Linked DNA regions of Homo sapiens. The protein of the gene in region 2 interacts with the protein of the main gene of each other region in a biochemical or structural test. Each region holds a gene or a part of one and is shown on either strand. Other genes may lie near its edges.

The links.
Region 1: of the proteins of GTF2E2 (region 2) and CDK7, one has a biochemical effect on the other in vitro, tested with the Homo sapiens proteins (one study listed by BioGRID).
Region 3: the proteins of GTF2E2 (region 2) and KLF5 form a complex in vitro, tested with the Homo sapiens proteins (one study listed by BioGRID).

What each region holds. Positions count from the first base shown.
Region 1 is NC_000005.10:69,272,873-69,277,950, reverse strand, and holds the end of CDK7 (cyclin-dependent kinase 7), read right to left. Parts: intron 5,060-5,078; coding exon 4,910-5,059; exon of another isoform or gene 4,513-4,909; coding exon of another isoform or gene 4,472-4,512; intron 1,409-4,471; coding exon 1,261-1,408; intron 845-1,260; coding exon 816-844; 3' UTR 521-815; downstream 1-520. UniProt on the Homo sapiens protein: Serine/threonine kinase involved in cell cycle control and in RNA polymerase II-mediated RNA transcription. Cyclin-dependent kinases (CDKs) are activated by the binding to a cyclin and mediate the progression through the cell cycle.
Region 2 is NC_000008.11:30,578,237-30,585,269, forward strand, and holds the end of GTF2E2 (transcription initiation factor IIE subunit beta), read right to left. Parts: intron 6,923-7,033; coding exon of another isoform or gene 6,903-6,922; exon of another isoform or gene 6,189-6,902; intron 2,161-6,188; coding exon 2,045-2,160; intron 802-2,044; coding exon 685-801; 3' UTR 82-684; downstream 1-81. UniProt on the Homo sapiens protein: Recruits TFIIH to the initiation complex and stimulates the RNA polymerase II C-terminal domain kinase and DNA-dependent ATPase activities of TFIIH. Both TFIIH and TFIIE are required for promoter clearance by RNA polymerase.
Region 3 is NC_000013.11:73,068,992-73,076,024, forward strand, and holds part of KLF5 (Krueppel-like factor 5), read left to right. Parts: intron 1-6,716; coding exon 6,717-6,895; 3' UTR 6,896-7,033. UniProt on the Homo sapiens protein: Transcription factor that binds to GC box promoter elements. Activates the transcription of these genes.

The DNA.
Region 1 (5,078 bases), on a different chromosome or scaffold from region 2:
TTGTGCCCCTGCACTCCAACCTGAGTGACAGAGTGAGACTTTGTCCCCCGCCTCAGAAAAAAGGTTGGGGGGAATCTCAATTTTATCTGTAATGTTTTCTTTTTTTAGTACATTCCGTATATTAATATTTGTTAAGTTTGGGTAGTATTTACTACACCACTACTACATTTTTTTTTTTTTTGAGACTGTGTCTTGCCCTGTCACCCAGGCTGGAGTACAGTGGCGCCATCTTGGCTCACTGCAAGCTCTGCCTCCCGGGTTCTCGCCATTCTCCTGCCTCAGCCTCCTGAGTAGCTGGGACTACAGGCGCCCACCACCACGCCCAGCTAATTTTTTTTGTATTTTTAGTAGAGACGGGGTTTCACCGTGTTAGCCAGGATGGTCTCGATCTCCTGACCTGTGATCCGCCCGCCTCGGCCTCCCAAAGTGCTGGGAATACAGGCGTGAGCCACCGCGCCCGGCCAACATTTTTATTTTTAAACACTACCCATGCTACTACAGATTTGTGATACTATATGGGTCAGATCTTCCAAATAACTGGTAATAATTTTTATTAAGTTTTCCCTAATGCATTTTCAATTCTACATTTCAAGAGTATTGAACTTTTCTCACTTTTGCACTCTAATCAGAAAAACCAGAATTAAATTTTTATTTTAAAATACATTTAATAAAAATAACCCATAGTTTTACATATTTTACATGTGTAGAATATTTACAAACTCACTTCTACAGCATTTACTTAATGTTTACTATTTTTCCATTATTTGCCTTTTTGGCTATTTCCCTCAGTAGTAAAATGTTGTCCAGTGTTCTCTTTAAAAAATTAGTTTCTTGGGCAATCCTCCTAGGAAGCAAAAAGAACAAGAAAAAAAAAAGTTGTTCACATTTAACAAAGTTCACATTCTCATAGCAATTTTAACCAGTCACTGCATTCCAACTACATTATTTCACTGACACATTTTTTCCAGTAGCACTTGTTAAACATTTAGCATGTAGTTTACAGAAGGAATTTATGAAGGGAACAAGGTACACATACATAGTTCCCATAATTCTGAGGTATACACAAAAGCTGCCGAAGTATTCACAATGAAAGTAAACATACCTAAAACGGCACAGTCTCTCTACTTTATACAATTAAATTTATAAAAATTAAATAGCTAGCAAGCTACATTTCTTTGCTGTTGTTCAGTCGCTAGCCATACACGAGCTATTTGGAGTTTTCTAAATTCATTTAATTTCTTTTAAAAGTGGGAATCTTACCTTGTTCTAAGGCCTCTGTTCTTTTCCTTTTTATTGCCAAAGCTGGATTTGATTGCTCCTTTAAGGTTTCCACTGGACAGTTTGGTCTTGGCAGCTGACATCCAGGTGTTGGCCCTGGCCGATTACTGAAATACTTCATTTTCAGTGCCTTTTAAAAGAAAAGATACCAAAAGTAAGGTAGGTGAGTATCTGAAATGTGTTAAGGAAAATCTTACCTTCAAGATTATAGGGAGCATTAAAAATACTATGTGAATGCCCTCATTCCCAACAAAACAAAATTAATGTCAAGTATTTGCAAATGGAAATTACTACAAATAAATACCTAGGATCCTAAGATTGGCTGATAATTCCATTAAAAGACTGGCCGGGCACAGTAGCTCATGCCTGTAATCCCAGCACCTTGGGAGGCTGAGGCGGGTGGATCACATGAGGTCAGAAGTTCGAGATCAGCTTGGCCAACGTGGCGAAACTCCATCTCTACTAAAAATACAAAAATAAGCTGGGCGTGGTGGTGCATGTCTGTAGTCCCCACTACTCGGGAGGCTGAGGTAGGAGAATCGCTTGAACCCAGAGGCAGAGGTTGCAGTGAGCCGAGATCGCACCACTGCACTCCAGCCTGGGCGACAGAGCAAGGCTCCGTATCAAAAAAAGAAAAGAAAAAAAGACTCCCTTCTAATTTTTCCATAATTAAATAGCCTATACAGGCTGAATATATCTTATCTAAAATGCTTGGGACCAGAAGTGCTTCAGATTTTGGACTGTGGAATATTTGCATATACATGACGTACCTTGGGGATGGAAGCCAAGATTAAAAATGAAACTTATGTTTCATATACAGCTTATACATATAAACTGAAGGTAATTTTACACTTATTTTTTGTGGAGAATGGGGTCTTGCTATATTGGCCAGGCTTGTCTTGAACTCCTGGGCTCAAGCTATCCTCCCGCCTCCGCCTCCCTAAGAGCTAGGATTACAGGCGTGAGCCACCGCGCCTGGCTGAAGGTAATTTTATAAAATATTTTTAATTTGACAAAATTTTTAATTTTGTACATAAAACAAAGTTTTGTTAATGTCCTTATGTGTAGAATTTTCCACTTGTGGCATCACGTCATCATTCAAAAAGCTTTGGATTTTGGAGCATTTCAGATTTCGGATATTTGGATTAAGGATGCTCAACCTATACTAATTATGAGCTATCCTTAGTGAAATATTGTACATTTCCATTCTCTACATATTGAACTCTACAGTTCAAAATGCAAAGAGAGAAACTTAAAAAGAACTTACAAGTTGGCCACACTATCCATATATATTCAAATTCCAAGTCATGTAAAATATAAATTCTTAAAAAATAAGGCTTTTTAAAAAATACAGTAGGTTGGAACCAATGGATTCTAATTCAACAATCCATTGCAAATGGACAGAAATTTTACTTGGAAGGGCTTCTCCAAGATTATTTCTATTAATTACCAGGCCAATGTTCTATAATACATTTTCTCTTTTTTTCCCCCTACTATAGTGCTGTAGATACAATACATTTTCTTGACTTGGGTCCACAATTCTGATAAAAATAATTATATCCTAAATGACAAGTTTGTCAGGTCATGCTTGTCTTTTTTTTTTTTTTTGGATACAGAGTCTCACCCTGTTGCCCAGGCTGGAGTGCAGTGGCACAATCTTGGCTCACTGCAACCTCCACCTCCCGGGTTCACATGCTTGTCTATTTACATCAGCAGCATAGTGCTGTCCAGTGGCTACAATGATTTAAAATACTTCTGGCAGGGCGGGGTGGCTCATGCCTGTAATCCCAGCACTTTGGGAGGCCGAGGCAGATGGATCACCTGAGGTCAGGAGTTCGAGATCAGCCTCGATAACATGGTGAAACCCTGTCTCTACTAAAAATCCAAAAATTAGCCAGGCATGGTGGTGTGCACCTGTAATCCCAGCTACTAGGGAGGCTGAGACAGGAGAATCGCTTGTACCTGGGAGGTAGAGGTTGCAGTGAGTCAAGATCGTGCCACTGCACTCCAGCCTGGGTGACAGAGCAAGACTTCGTCTCAAAAATAAATAAATAAATACTTCCTTTAGGATAATCCTTTAAGAAAGATGAAGCCCATATAAACTTTGCAAGCATTCCTCACCACTCCCAATATTATTTGCAGTAATTTAGAGATTCCTTACTTCAACAGTTGCATTTTCATTTTTTATTTATTTACTTTTTGTAGAGATGATGTTTTGTCATGTTGCCCAGGCTGGGCTCCAACTCCTGGGCTCAAGCTATCCTTGCTCCTTCACCTCCCAAAGTGCTGGGATTACAGGTGTGAGCCGATGCACCGGCCTACAGCTGCATTTTTAAAGCATTACTTCTAAATCACAGCAGTTCTATATGCAAATTAGGCTAATTCTGGGCTAAAGATCTAAGAAAATACCTCATTCCAACTTTAATAAAGACATCCATGAAACAAAACTCACTTTAAAAACTTCATTCTATTAAAATACAACCCAAATACAACAACTAGTATTTTTCTGTTAAGTTTCAAACTATACTACCAATGAAAACAACTTTCTAGATAATTAAATGTGGTCTCAAGTTTATTATGATGGAAATAATATACATAGAAGTATGAGTGAAAAGGCAACAAATTACTTGTTTGAAATTAAAAGAGTATGTGTACACATGGACATAAAAATAATAAAGAAAAATTTTTTAAAAAAGAAATTAGGAGAATAATTCTAATGGTAAATACCCAGCATATACCTACCTACCTATCCATCTATATCTATCTATCCTTCCATCCATCCATCCATCTCCATATATATTCACATAGCACACATTGCTAAAAAGAGAAGGCTTATACAAGCAAGTGCATTAAACAATGATTTTGTAGCCTGGAACAAACCTAAAGAGAAAAAAATCTATTTTGTATGCTTAATATTACTGTACATTAATATGTTTCCATAAAGACCTGTGATCTCACTTTCATTAGTCTCTCCCTTCATGAGGTAAAATCACTGCACTGTGTTGTACAGTGCTCTGCCCTAAGTTATTCTAGGTCTTCCAAATTTTTCATGAGTTTGTTATTTCCTTTAAACAGCAGTTAGTTTCAGTTTTTGTTTTATTTCAAATATTTTTCAAGCTTTTGTAAGCATACAATTATATCTGACTATACCATTTCCTCCCCATTACCATGTTCTCAATGTGAGAATGATCAGCATGCATACCTGGATTGCATTATATAGGAAAGAAAAAATAAGCCGAACAAACTACTTTCAGCATTGCTACAAGATTTAAATGAATTTGTAAGAGCTCAACTGAAATATACCAGTTTCTTAACAAATAAAAAGCCTTGGTTTTCTTTTTCTAAGTAAAGTATTTACAAGCCAATTATGTGAAATAGACATGTATTTAAATGTCCCTAAGCAAGTGTAATAAGTGTAAACTCTCCTGTATCTCTGTGTGCATATAATTTAATCTCAGTCTTAATAGTGTTTGTAGTTTGGGGAAAAGATACAAAGTTTGTTATTTCTTAAAACAAAAACACATCTTTCCAGTATTTAAAAAATGTTAATTTTATGAAATTCTATTTTTATCAATGCTACAGTTAAGATTATTTTTATATTTCCTAGTATAAAAAAGATACACCAAAATACCTGTGTGGCCGTAATTCGAGCACATGGATTAAATAAGAATAAGCCTTGTATGAGATCTAGTAAGTCGTCTCCTGCTGCACTGAAGATGTGATGCAAAGGTATTCCAGGGAAACTCTTAAATGTCACATAATCTGGAAGACTACACATGTCCTGTAAAAATAATTTTGTA
Region 2 (7,033 bases):
TCCCAAAGTGCTGGGATTACAGGCGTGAGCCAGCTTGCCCGGCTGACACTGACGCTTCTTTTTAAAAGAAAACATTAACAATGACATCCAGCACATCTTTATTGCTCTGCTTGCTAACAAGCAGCACACCTGTGTTCCAGTGGTGAAATCCATGTGCTCAGCAACACAGTGCAGACTGCAGGCTTCATCACATCCCCAGCACGTGACCCATGGAAATCAGAGACTGGAGCTGCTTCCTGCCATTTCCGAGAATGAAAAGAAACAGAATTCACTAACATCTTAAAAATCCTTCTACAGTGATTTTATTATAAATATGTTCTTTTGGAATAAACAAATATTGCATTCAAGACTATGGGCAAACTTGCTCTAAAGTAACAAACGAGGAAGAAAGGAACCAGGAACCATTTAGAAGTGGAGAAAAACACAGCAAAGACACCTGCATGCCACGCTCAGCGCCTTTCTCCCAGGGAGTAACAGAAGGTTAACAGGGAACATCACATTGCCCATGAGCCCATTCTACTCAAATAAGCTTTGAGTTTGGTAATTTGCACTTGTTTTGTAAACTGAACTGCTCCTCTCCTCAGCCGCAAGAAGCAGATAGGAAGACAGTCTTCAGACCCCGAGCATCAGCAAGAACACTCTTGATTGTGTATCTGTAACTCTGTTCCAGGGCAAAACTGTTCCCTATTTGCTGGAAGTAATGTCAGAGTAATCCTTCAGCACTCCAGCCAAGTGTTCGTTATGAGTCTTAAAGCGTCGCTTTTTCTGTGAAGCAGGCTTTTTCCTTCTCTGAATAGGGGCCTAAAGGAAAAGGTAAAAACAATTAGAAACAACAGCTGCTCTGAGGGGTGGTGTGGCCAGGATGTTCTGAGCATGCCCAGATGCCAGTGGCTGAGGATGCCAGGTTCGGACCCTTCTCCTGCTCTGCCACCCAGCAGCACACATGGGGCACAGCACACGCCCTGACCAGACCCCGGGCCTTTGTTCCCCTGAGATGCAGATGCCATCGGGAATGAAGGAGCAGGCACAAAAACCTGCCAAAATGGTTCTAGGCACTAAGTCAAACAAAAGGGACGATGAAGCCCTTCAGCTCTGTCTCTGTCATCAGGTTTAAAAACGTATCCACCATTACCGATTTTAAAAAGATCTGAAGAAAATATGGCAAAATCCTGAGAAAGGAGGAGCACATGAAGGTCTGTAATATTCTCTATTCTTTTCTATATACTTGAAATATTAGCATCACATGATGAAAAAAATTAACAAATGAGACAATAATAGGAAATCATGAAGGGCTGCAATTACACTCATTTGTGGAAAGAGATTGACAATAAAGCTTCCCTTTAGGTGAGTCCTAAAAATTCACCAAACACACATGCCCACCCCACACCCCAGAAAGACACAGGTGACAAGCTATGAAGCATGACGGTGGATAAGGAAAGGGGGGAGGAGCACAGCACTGCTAACAAGGGTGCTGGTGAATCATCCCCCCGGGCTTTGTTCTTAGACTACAGATTTTATTTGCTGGTGCAAGGCAATGTAAAAGTCATCATTTAATTACTAACATCCCCTGTGAGCAGGATTTAGAGACTATACGGACAAAAATATCTGGTTCCTAGAGGACCTGAAAGTTACTATGGCAGAACCAGGCACCAGGACGGCGAGGCTCACGGAGCAGGGGAGGGCCCCGTTCAAGTCTGAAAGGTTGTGCAGATCAAGGCACAGCATCCCTTTAAGAATAGGGAGAAGGGCTTGTAGCAGCTTAGAGTGGGAGAGTGGGGAACACACAGGCCCTGGAAGGTTCCATATGGCTATACCTCAAGAGCAGGACTGCTTGGGAGGAGCTGGGTGTAGAAAGGCACTCACAGGCCTGGAGCAGCACCGAGGGCGGGTCTGCAGGCCTGCAATACCTCAGATGTGACCTGGGCTGCGGACACTGAGAAACAATGGCGGGGGAACAACTCCCAGCTCTTCAGAGGGCAGAAAGCGGAGCAGGCTAACAGTTCCCAGGGCAGGGGATTAAGCTGCTTTGCTAGAGATTACGCACCACTTTCTTTGGTCCAGATTCCTGCATGGAAGAAATACCCTGTCGCTTCAGATATTCTTCAATTTTCTCCTCGTCCATGGAATCTACAGTGACACTCCTCCACAGTTTCTGAAATTCTGTATCAAACAGACACTAGTTATTTTACAATCCATTTTTACAAACTATAGCATCTTGATCAAAATCCAGGTTTCAGTGTTATCTCCTCTGGATCCAAATGAGCACATCTGATATGTCATCATGAAACAAGTCAGGGCAGAACATCCACATGTGGGACACGGTGCAGGGAAAGGCCTGGAGACAGAACTGCACCCACACAGCCCCGACAGTGGGGCTGTTTCTTGAGGCCAGCAAATGAGGGCTGCCACAATGAAGCCGCCCTGCTTTCCTGGGCCGTCAACACCCTCCTTTAATTCCTCTATTTAGGGCTAACAGCTTATTTCCTGCTCAGCTCCCCTAAGCATGATATACTCATTCCTCTCTCATTGATAATAGAAAATAAGAAACGTGTAGGGAGACGGGAACCGAAGTTTCACATGGAAATGAGGTTATTCAACAATTTATCTGCAAAAAAGACTTTTGAAATCAAATAACCTGGTAACTGGTGACTAAGGAGGCATGAAAGGGAAAGGGGGGATGGCTGAAATAGAAACACTGTCTCACCTCCTCTCTGTAATACAAGGAGAAAGGCGACAGTCCTGCCTGCAGCTTGTCTTCAGAAACCTGTAGTCCCTCTGCCACATCACTATTTTTGCAACCAAGAGAGACCACAATTGGGAAGCATTCCAAATGAACATTATTTACATCTTACATTCTGCTCCTGAAGACAGGTTCTGATCACTGGTTTCACTTAATTATCAGAAGCTACTTTCAGACACAAAATCCTAAGACTTACACGCTCAGGAACGAAAAAAGGAAAAGCTCTCTGAGCCCCGAGGCTTCACAGAGCCTCACACTCACAACTGCCCCACGCACTGAGGGGATGCACCTTCCCTTCCTTTCTTCCCACCCCAGACCCTCACCCAGCGCCGCCCTCCTTTTCTTCCAGAGCCAAGAACTTCCCACGGTCCGTTTACAAATGATAAATGAAGTAGGCATCTGATACTGTGCTAGGCCAGATTTCTTTCCTTTTCCCCTTTTCCTTCCTTCCCCCTTTCTCTCTCATTTCAGTACACGCTGCATAAAGCAAATGATGCCCACATAGGCAGGACTCTGGTGATACCATGGAAATCGGTTTACTGCCACCTACCCTGAAGCTTTTCATTGCAGGTGACCAATGGCAAAAGTGGCAAAATCTACTACAAAGAATTCAACCTGAGCATAAAGTTATTTAAATCCAAAATGTCTCTAAATAAGATTTTTTAATTTCCATAGATACATTAGGGGTTCTTTCTACTACACACCCACTGAACGTTCATCTGCACACATTATGGACATGACCTAACTGATAACAACTGTGTGCATGATTGTCTCGGCCTCTCTAAGCTCCTTGAGAGCAGGGAGCTCTATTTCCATCTTGTTTCCATGATAGTCGGCGTATTTCCATCTCGTTTCCATGACAGTCGGCACTGTACCTAGCACATGACAGGTCCTCAGTGATTTGACTACTGAATGTATGAAACACCATCACTGTCTACTACAGCCTAGACAAGACTTCAACGATTTGACTACCGAATGTATGAAATACCATCATTGTCTACTACACCCTAGACAAGACAGACTGTTTTCTTTTTTTAAAATTTATTTATTTTTGAGACAGGGTCTAGTTCTGTTGCCCAAACTGGAAAGCAGTGGCGCAATCTCAGCTCACTGTAACCTCCACCTCCTGGGCTTAAGCAATCCTCCCACCTCAGCCTCCTGAGGAGCTGGGACCAAGGTACACACCACCATGCCCAGCTAAGTTGTTTCTGGGGGGGTGGGGGGTTGTGTAGAGATGAGGTTTTACCATGTTGCCTAGGCTGGGCTCAAACTCCTGAGCTCAGGCAATCCATCTGCCTTGGCCTCCCGAAGTGCTGGGATTACAGGTGTCGAGCCACCATGTCTGGCCTATATTTTTCTTTTTACATTTTTTAGACTTTTAAAAAATAATTTTACACTAACAAAAGGGTTACAAAATGAGTACACAGAGTTCCTATATGCCCTTTATCCAGCTTCCCCTAATGTTAACACCTTACATAACTGTATAATTATTGAAACTAACATGGACATATTACTATTAATTCATCAACAGGCCTTACTGAAACTTCACAAGTTTGAAGTGAAACTTCAACTTCACCGATGCTCTTTTCTTGGCCCAGGATCCTGCCTGTCACATCTCTTTGGTCTCCTCCATTCTCTAAGTGTGGCCAGTCTTTGTTTCCCCACTGGTCAGTTGTTTTACAGAAACTTCCATTTGGGTTTGTCTAGTATTTCCTCATTACTAGATTGAGGTTATGCAATTCTGGCAAGAACAACACAGTAACGAGCTTGTGCCCTTCTTGGGGCACAGTAGCAAGCTACATAGTGTCAACATGGACCCGGTAAACGCTGACCATCAGGCAAGGTGTTATCTCTCAGGTTTCTCTGTCATGAAGCTATCAGTTTTTCCTTTGTAGTTAATAATTAATGGAGAGATATTTTCAGACTATATAAATACCGTTTCTCATATTATCACTAATTTTATAATAGCATCCATTGGTAGTGCTTACCTACAAAAATGACTACTTGTAAGTAACTACTGACAAATTATTTCCATCATTCCTTCCATATGTACTAATTAGAATTCTACTATAATAGGCTGGGCACGGTGGCTCATGCCTGTAATCCCAGCACTTTGGGAGGCCGAGGAGGGTGGATCATTCAAGGTCAGGAGTTCAAGACCAGCCTGGCCAACATGGTGAAACTGTGTCTCTACTAAAAATACAAAAATTAGCTGGGCATGGCAGTGGGTACCTGTAATCCCAGCTACTCAGAAGGCTGAGGCAGGAAAATCACTTGAACCTGGGAGGCGGAGGGTGCAGTGAGCTGAGACTGTGCCACTGTACTCCAGCCTGGGTAACACAGCGAGACTCCATCTCAAAAAACAAAACATAACAAAAAACACAAAGAGCTGCTCTTCCTTCAGTTCACTGTTTGTTTGTTGAGACAGGGTCTCACTTTGTCACCTAGGCTGGAGTGCAGTGGCACAATCTTGGCTCACTGAAGCCTCAACTTCCTGGGCTCAATCAATCTTCCTCCCTCAGCCTCCCAAGTGGCTGGGACTACAGGCACATACCACCACACCAGGCTAACTTTTGTATTTTTAGTAGAGACAGGGTTTCATCATGTTGCCAAGGCTGGTCTCGAACGTCTAGACTCAAGCGATCCACCTGCCTTGGCCTCCCAAAGTACTGGGATTACCAGCCTGAGCCACTGTGCCCAACCTCCAACTTGTTTTTCAATTATTTAATTTAGCAGACTCATGGATATTACTGTACAGATTTATATCTACATATTTATTACACAGATAATCCATGACGATCAGTATTTATTTATTTATTTATTTTATTTATTTATTTTATTTATTTTGAGATGGAGTCTCGCACTGTCACCCAGGCTGGAGTGCAGTGGTGCGATCTCGGCTCACTGCAAGCTCCACCTCCCGGGTTCACGCCATTCTCCTGTCTCAGCCTCCCGAGTAGCTGGGACTACAGGCGCCAGCCACCACGCCCAGTTAACTTTTTGTATTTTTTAGTAGAGACAGGGTTTCACCGTGTTATCCAGGATGGTCTCGATCTCCTGATCTTGTGATCTGCCCGCCTCAGCCTCCCAAAGTGCTGGGATTACAGGCGTGAGCCACCGTGCCCAGCCGACGATCAGTATTTATTTTGTGGTTCAAACATCCCAGCTCTAATCACTAAGATTTCCTTCATGTTGGTTCCTATGTCCCTGACTTGCTTCCCTTTTTTTTTTTTTCCTCCAGTTTTTCTTCTTTCTCTCACTTTCTGGCGGTACTAAAAGATGTTCCAGGCTCATCTTGTATTTCCCCTCATTTGGAATCAATGATTTCTTCAAGGATTCCTGACTTGTTTTATTATAGAATGGTATTTAAAAACCAAGATCTACATATTTTGGGTTTTTAAAAATAGCAATCTCTTTTTTGAAAACAAAATGATCAAGGGACATCAAATTTAAAGGCAGACACTTTATTATGGCAGAAGACAGCCAAGTATCATGAAAGTCAGGCACACTCTAAACCGTAAGGGTAAATAAAATCAGAACTGATTTAGAAATCTACTCTCTTAGCAGAAAAGAGGAGAAAACAGACTAGAATTTAAAAGCTCAGATTTGATCCTTTCATTTCAAAAGACCCTTCCTTGTCCCACATGAGTTAAGAATAAAAAACTGTGTAACTGCCATAGAAGGGAAGAAAATGAGCCAACTTACCAATGAGGCTTTGCTTAAAATTCCCAAATAACGCACTCACATTTTGTCTGTGCTTAGCCCTTTCCCGTAAATGCAAAAGTAGCACAACAGTGTGGTGCAGGCCTCAGAGCCAGATGGCCTGGCTGTGACCTCAGTTACCACATTTCCTGCACAAAGTGGTGCAAACATCTTAATTTTTCTGCCTCCATTTCTTCATCTGTAAAGTGAGGATAATAATAATACCTGCCTCGCCGAGCGTGGTGGCTCTGTAATCCAAGCACTTTAGGAGGCCAAGGCAGGCGGATCACCTGAGGTCGGGAGTTCGAGACCAGCCTGACCAACATGGAGAAACCCCATCTCTATTAAAAATACAAAATTAGCCAGGCGTGGTGGCACATGCCTGTAGTCCCAGCTACTTGGGAGGCTGAGGAAGGAGAATCGCTTGAGTCCGGAAGGCAGAGGTTGCGGTGAGCCGAGATCACGCCATTGCACTCCAGCCTGGGCAACAAGAGCGAAACTCCGTCTCAATAATAATAATAACGATAATAGTAATAATAATACCTGCCTCATAGAATAGTGAGGATTAGAGGAGTTAATAAAGCACCGAAA
Region 3 (7,033 bases), on a different chromosome or scaffold from region 2:
AGCCTGATGCAGGAGAATTGCTTGAACCTGGGAGGCAGAGGTTGTGGTGAGCCAAGATCATGCCACCACACTCCAGCCCGGACAACAGAGCAAGACTCCATCTGAAAAAATAATAATAATAAAAAATAAAAAATCGATAATATTGACAATAAAGATATTTTCATTGCAGGTACTTACTAAAAGCAACATTCAGTGTTCTGAACATAAGTTACTCTTCTTTTTGTGGAACTGTGGGAAAAGGGTAAAAGGCTTTTTAGGAAAACTGTATACAAAGGTTTTCACTCTGGGCCTTAATGGATGGAGATCTTACAATGTGAATCGAGAAATAATAGTGGTTAAATGTGTAACCTGTTTTATTGGTAGAGATAACACAGGCAAAATCTTTTTTGCAGGAAGAGATTTAGGACTCAGTGGTTTTTTGAGTCTCTATTTGAAAACTATTGCAGAGGAAGTATCACATTTATTAGCCTTTAGTATTAGATTTTATTAAACATTCTTTTCATTCTTTTCCATTTTTTTTTCATTTGCAGCTTTGAAATTTATTTTGTGTATTGATAATTTCAAACAATTTTTTTTTAAAGTAGTAGCTTAAGAGACTTGCTGGTTCAGACCCCAGGAAAGGTATTTATGAGCATGAAAGCTTAGAAGCAATTTCTTTTTAATGACTCACTGGGAAGATTAAACTTTGCTTCTAGGACTTGTTCTTTCTTCTGAGAAACATTTACATAGGAAATTGATTAAACATTGTTTAGAGATGATAAAGCTTATCAAAAGTTAAGTATAATTTGATTCAGCAAATATTTTTTACTGGTTTTGTGGAGAATCCAAAGATGAATAATCTCTTCTTGCCCTTTTGTTCATAGACTAAATAGAATTGCTGGAGTGGAGATAGAAATAATTAGTCTTGAAAGTAGAGAGTAATGTTTTTAAAAAATAATAATACAGTCACCCAAGAATTTGGCAGATATTTTTGGTTCTATAGAATGTAGTAGCTGTTTACTTGATGGCCTACATCGTTTCTAGTGAAAGATTAGAAATAATGTCCTACTTTAGTAAAAGTATCTCCGTAGCAGCATTCCTAGTCTGTTAGCCAGTATTATTTATATTCAAGGATCTCAAACAACAACTCTTATTAAGGATAAGTTACAGTTTTAGAAGTGCACAGTAGGTAACTTTTACCTAAAAATATCTATATAGAAGAATAAATTTATTTTTGGCTACTTTATGAAAAGGTAAACCTTTACGAGTTGGGAGGAGACCTACTGGTCAGGGTCACCATGTGAAGTGCAAATTAAAGGGAAGGTTATCTAGTACTCATTCCATACTGGGAAAAAATGAAAATAGAGGATTTTTCTGTTTTGCTTACAAAAAGAAAAGGTGAAATTCCTCATTGACACTTTAACGTCAGTGCGAACTCCCATTATAAGAAAGTGAATCCGAGTGTTGTCTCGTTATCAGGAGACGGAAGAATTGGTATTTGATTTCATTAACTCTATTAATGACAGGGGATAGTCTTCATAATGTTTACTGGGAACCCAGAGGAGAAGTAGCAGTAGTTTAGGAGCCCAGAGATTCCAAATCTCTGCTAGGATGTAGACTGTAAGTGTAACCCCTGACATCGTGATCCCACCCATTCCCTCTCTGGGTTTGGCAGATCAGTGCTTTCTGGCCCTGGGAGAAGTCCCCTCGCTGCCTTTGACCAGTGCTAGGGGCTCTAGTATGTCTTGGCTTTCCTGAAGTCCAGTCCAGTTCTACCTAAGACAATTTGTTTAAACAGAGTTTATCCCTGTATAACTTCAGAATGGACAATAACTCATTCGATTATTTTCTCTGGAAGTGGCTCAAAACATGGTTCTCACCTAAATGCGTATTACCAGATTACTCTCAGTGGTCCTGGGCAGGGCAAAGCCAGGCAAAAGCCCTGCTGCAGGAGGGTCCACAGAAGAATAAAAAGCTGACAGCCTCACAAGAACCTTTTATGCCTTCCCTCCTTTTCTTTAATCAGAATAACTGAGTTGTTTTCAAGATGCATTAGGGAAAGTGTGGCATTACAGCAGGAATAGAAGATAGTCTCTGCCCTTGAGGAACTTTAAAAGCTAGTTAAGGAGGCAAAATACAACTATTTGAAGCCTTCCTAAAGCAGTATATGTGCAAGTGCAAATTGATAGCTCAACAGAAATTTCAGTGATGGGGATACAGAGAAGTGAAATGATCTCTCCTGGTCTGTTCAGAGGCTTTCTAGAAGGAGTGAGGTATCGGATTTTAAAGAAAGTGATAAATATAAATTGAGGAGAGAAAGGAATTTCTCTTTTGTTGCTTTTGTTTTTGTTTTTGGCAATCAGCTTCCTTAGGTTGAATGGGCACAATATTGATGGTGTTATCTGGTAAATAATTAGATGCATTTACAAATGCTAATAATACTAATCTTTGATATGGACCTTCTGTTCCAAGTATAGGAAATGTGTGACAATGAGTTTTAATAGAAAGGTTTTTGATGGAAAATTACTGGCATAGACGTAAAAATATGAATTAGTGAGCTAAAATCATCCTCCTACTTTATCTCTTTTCTTAGATATCTAAATCATTTTCCTATGAATTTCTTTAATAAGTGTTTCCTATTTTTCTCCCTTTTGATTTTTAGAAGCAAATCTAATATGAGCCTATTTCAGAGACTAAATTTCGTAAGTCTCAAATGATGGGAAAAATCTAATTATTATTGAATTGCATGAAAATATTTTCCTCTTGAAATAAGAGCCCATTTTGAGCTTCAAGGACTCTTAAGTTCTAAGAGTTTAGATTAGGTTGAAATAATTTATTCTACTTTAAAAGTTTGGATTGTTTAGGTTCGCAGAACAAGATACAAGATTTTAAGTTCTTTGAGGCCAGAAACCAAGTCTTATTTGAGTTTTGCAAGGCATTTAGTACAGGTTACACCTTCACTAATAAACAGTGACTTTAATTCTCATGATATTTTAGCTTTATCAGATATTGATTGAGTTGTCTTTTAGTCACCAGGAAGGAAACCGATGTGTAAATTTGCTGCAATAAACTTTTAAAACATTATCTAAAATAACTATTTTAAGATAAATATTTTATCAGTGATTTTTATTCTTTTGTTAGAAGAATCTATGTAGAACATTTTAGGGAAAGGCCTTGGTATGTCTATTGAATGTGTTCAGCAGAGCAGAGAAACTTCCCATTCCATTGTGATAGGTTCAGAAGTCATTCAGAGGGGGGAAAAAAAAGGACAATTTTCAGTTTGTTGCTGAGGATTTTTAAAATGGCTTACAAACATGTTCCACTAACCCACTGAAATTCACTTACCCTGGGGGAAAGGAGCTATCGTTAGGTGATACCTGGGAATTGGCAATACCTGAACAGTGCTCAGGACCCCACAGGCCCCACAGAGGCTGGCACTGCCAGGTTGTGCTCTCTGTTTCAGATCGTCTGGGGTTCAAGGCTTGCTGTGAGTCCATTAAGCCATTCCTTAGCTGACCTTCGCAAGTGGCTTTAGAATCTGGAAATGAATTTGAACAATATGTATGTGTTCCTTAAATCGTTCAAAGAGAGTGTATTAGTGTTTGCTAATGGAAGATTTAAGTGAGACATTAAGGAAAAGTGGCAGACCAGGATTCTTAATGTGGAGCTCATCGTTTTGCTTCTAACTCTACGGGGTTATTGTGAGGAAGCGAGATAATGAGAAGTACCTCGCTCTGGAGTATGTGCTCCATGGCTGCTGGTGCCTGCTCCCTTTTCCTTTTACCGGTAATGTTTCTGCTTAACATTTTTGTAAAGTATGTTAATGACTTTATCAGCGTGGATAGTATGCATGTTTAACTTGAACATAGTTTTCAAAGATTAGAGATTCTAGCAAAATACTCCTGTAATTTAAAAACAGAATGAGAAAACACATACTTTGAGATAAAGTGGGAGCTTGTTTTCTGTGCTGTACAAACTTGTCACTTTTTTCTTTTTGCCTTTGGAAAGTTTCACGTTAACAGCATGAGAACTTAAAAATACAGTTGATGTTGAAAGAGCTTAACTAAATATTTTAAATTGGTGGTATTGGAAAGAGATTCTGTAAAAATCCAATTAAACTTTTGAAAGCTCTATCCTGTTGAAATATAACTTAAAGGAAGTCAGTTTGGTTTCCCAGAAGTACTGTGCATAGTGTTTCTGGCTGAGGAAGAAAGGCCCAAGTCTGCTGTTTGGCCAGAAATTGGGTACCAGTTTCCTCTACGATGTTTTACTTGAACGGTGTTGACACTTGAACAAATCCCATAGAAACTGCCCCAAGTGGGGGGATAGTTGTCCTTACTTTTATGGTAAGACTTGGCCCCAGTAACTAACATTCCAGACACTGGTAGTATTCTTGGCTGAATACTCTATAGATGTGCATAAATTGAGAGCAAAACCCCAAATGTTTTAGAAACTTTAATGGCTACCGTATTTCAAGCAATCAGTAAAGTAAACTTTAAAAAATACTGGTGCAGTTTATTGCTTCATAGCCAATAAAAATAGTGAACAAAAAGAGTCTAGTGTCCCTTGTTTCTTACATAAACTCTGAAAATTCAGTTCTGCTATTTAATTATTAAATTCAAAAGACTAGAATGATTTCTTTTAAAATTGGGAGCACTATAGGAATTTTTTTCCTTGTCTCAGACATCAGAAATAACTTTTTCTTTCCATTAAATGACAGTAAAGTATTTAACCAATATGTTTGTTTCTGTGGTTTATTTTTCACAGGGAACAAAAACTAATAGTACTGTGCAAAAATTTTTTTTGTGATCAATTTACATCTACAAATGTGATAGCTATATTTACTACTGGTGTTAAAATATTTCTATATATCAGACATTTTATGTGATTGTAAGTGACAGAACGTGATTTATACTTTGTTTTGTAAATGGCTTGAGTGTCTTAGGTTAAATTTCTGGTTAGAATCTACTATGAGGGGAGAAAAAACTTCTAGAATTGAGATGTTCATTTTTAAAGTGGATTGATAGGAACCAGAAAGGGAATTAAAACAAAAACTGTCTGGGTCAGAGGCAGAGGAGAGAAGAGAGGAAGTATGGCACAGCAATCCATACCATGGGAAATGTAGGTGAACTCTCAAGGGAAAAAAAATTGGGACCACTTTCATGTCGTCTGTTTTGGCACTTTCTTCTTTGTCTGAGAGTCAGAGTGGTTATCATGACAACAAAAATATATTAACCACAAATTGTAGAAATCTCAGTTGATGAGGACAGGGTCTTTTAAAGTTTAGACTGACTTGGTTAATCCTACAACTTCCTGAACATGATACTGCTAAATTAGGCAGAAAGGTTGTGCAGTTTCTGTTTCGTCAGAACTAAACAAGTGTTCAAAGCAACTCTGAGGTTCCTCCCTTTCAGAAGGAAACATTTTTTTAAGGGAATTTAAGAGGTGAAAAAGTATCTATATAAAACTCAGCAGTAAGCCAGTAATACTTTAATATACAAATTTATCTCACGAATTCTTATAAAAAATTCATAGAAAATTATAAAATCATAAATGTAGGAACTGCTAGTTAATGCTCACTGAAAGAACGTTTTGGCATTTATTCCTACTGGAATATATGATCTCCAGTAGGATTCTTCACAAACAGAGAATTAAGACTACATTATGAATATTTAGTGGTTTTGAAAGTTAAACAGCTGGCAAGCTTTGGGGAGCATTAGGAATAATATACATTACAGGATGGGAGGGAGGAACATACCAACTCAATACTCAAGGGAAGAGAACTGTGAAAGAATGGAATGGGTAGGTTGAACAATTTCAGACTTTTAGATGTATATTACACATGTAAGCTCCATGAGGCCAACTGTTTTTATTTTGTTAGCCATTGTATCACAAGTATTTGGGACAGTTCCTGGCCTATAATAGATGCTTGGCGAATTGTTTATGGAATGAATTTTGGGTGTAACACATGACAAAGAAAAACTAAATACAAGTCAACAAATGTCAGTTTTTACAGTTGTTTCATGGTCTTTTTTTTTTACCAATGTGAAGTTATCAGTACCAGACTATTTTGCTTCAATCTGCAAAAGGAAGGTGTGTGAAGGTGTGTGTGACTCTCAAAGAGTGAATGCCCTAATAGTCCATTTTGGAGGCCATGTTTTCAAGTGAACTGATTGATGAGCTGCAAGCTTCTGTCTGGCTAATTTAGAAACATCTAGGACCAGTTTCTGGTTAAGCAGTTGTGGTACATGAAATTCAATGTATAGGTGATTCGTGCAACAGCTTCTGAATTTTTTCCTCCCTCACCCACCTTACAGCCATTAGTCCTATAATAATTTAATTTGGGTTTGTTGGTATAGAAACTGTATTTGCACAATAATGATAAAGCCACTCAGGCTCATCTAGTCATTTCCTGGATTTATGTGTGTAGGAGTACATAAAAATAAGGGCACTGATTCGTTTTGTACTTGTCTAAAATTGTTATTCTTCAGTTGTTCAAAGGTACACAAAATGCTTTTTTCTTTATGAGGTAAAAAATACTTGGAGGTTATAAGAAATAACTCTTAACTAGCTTACTTTGAGTGGCTTTGATATGTATTTACTCATAATGGAATTCATGAGCTTTCCTTCTTTCGCTTGGCCAAGATTTTTTTTTTCTTTGAAATTCCTTCTCCGGTGTTATCTAGGATGTTTGCATTACAAGCAGGCCGCTTTACCTCCTTTGTTCGTTGTCACAGGTGAAAAGCCATACAAGTGTACCTGGGAAGGCTGCGACTGGAGGTTCGCGCGATCGGATGAGCTGACCCGCCACTACCGGAAGCACACAGGCGCCAAGCCCTTCCAGTGCGGGGTGTGCAACCGCAGCTTCTCGCGCTCTGACCACCTGGCCCTGCATATGAAGAGGCACCAGAACTGAGCACTGCCCGTGTGACCCGTTCCAGGTCCCCTGGGCTCCCTCAAATGACAGACCTAACTATTCCTGTGTAAAAACAACAAAAACAAACAAAAGCAAGAAAACCACAACTAAAACTGGAAATGTATATTTTGTATATTT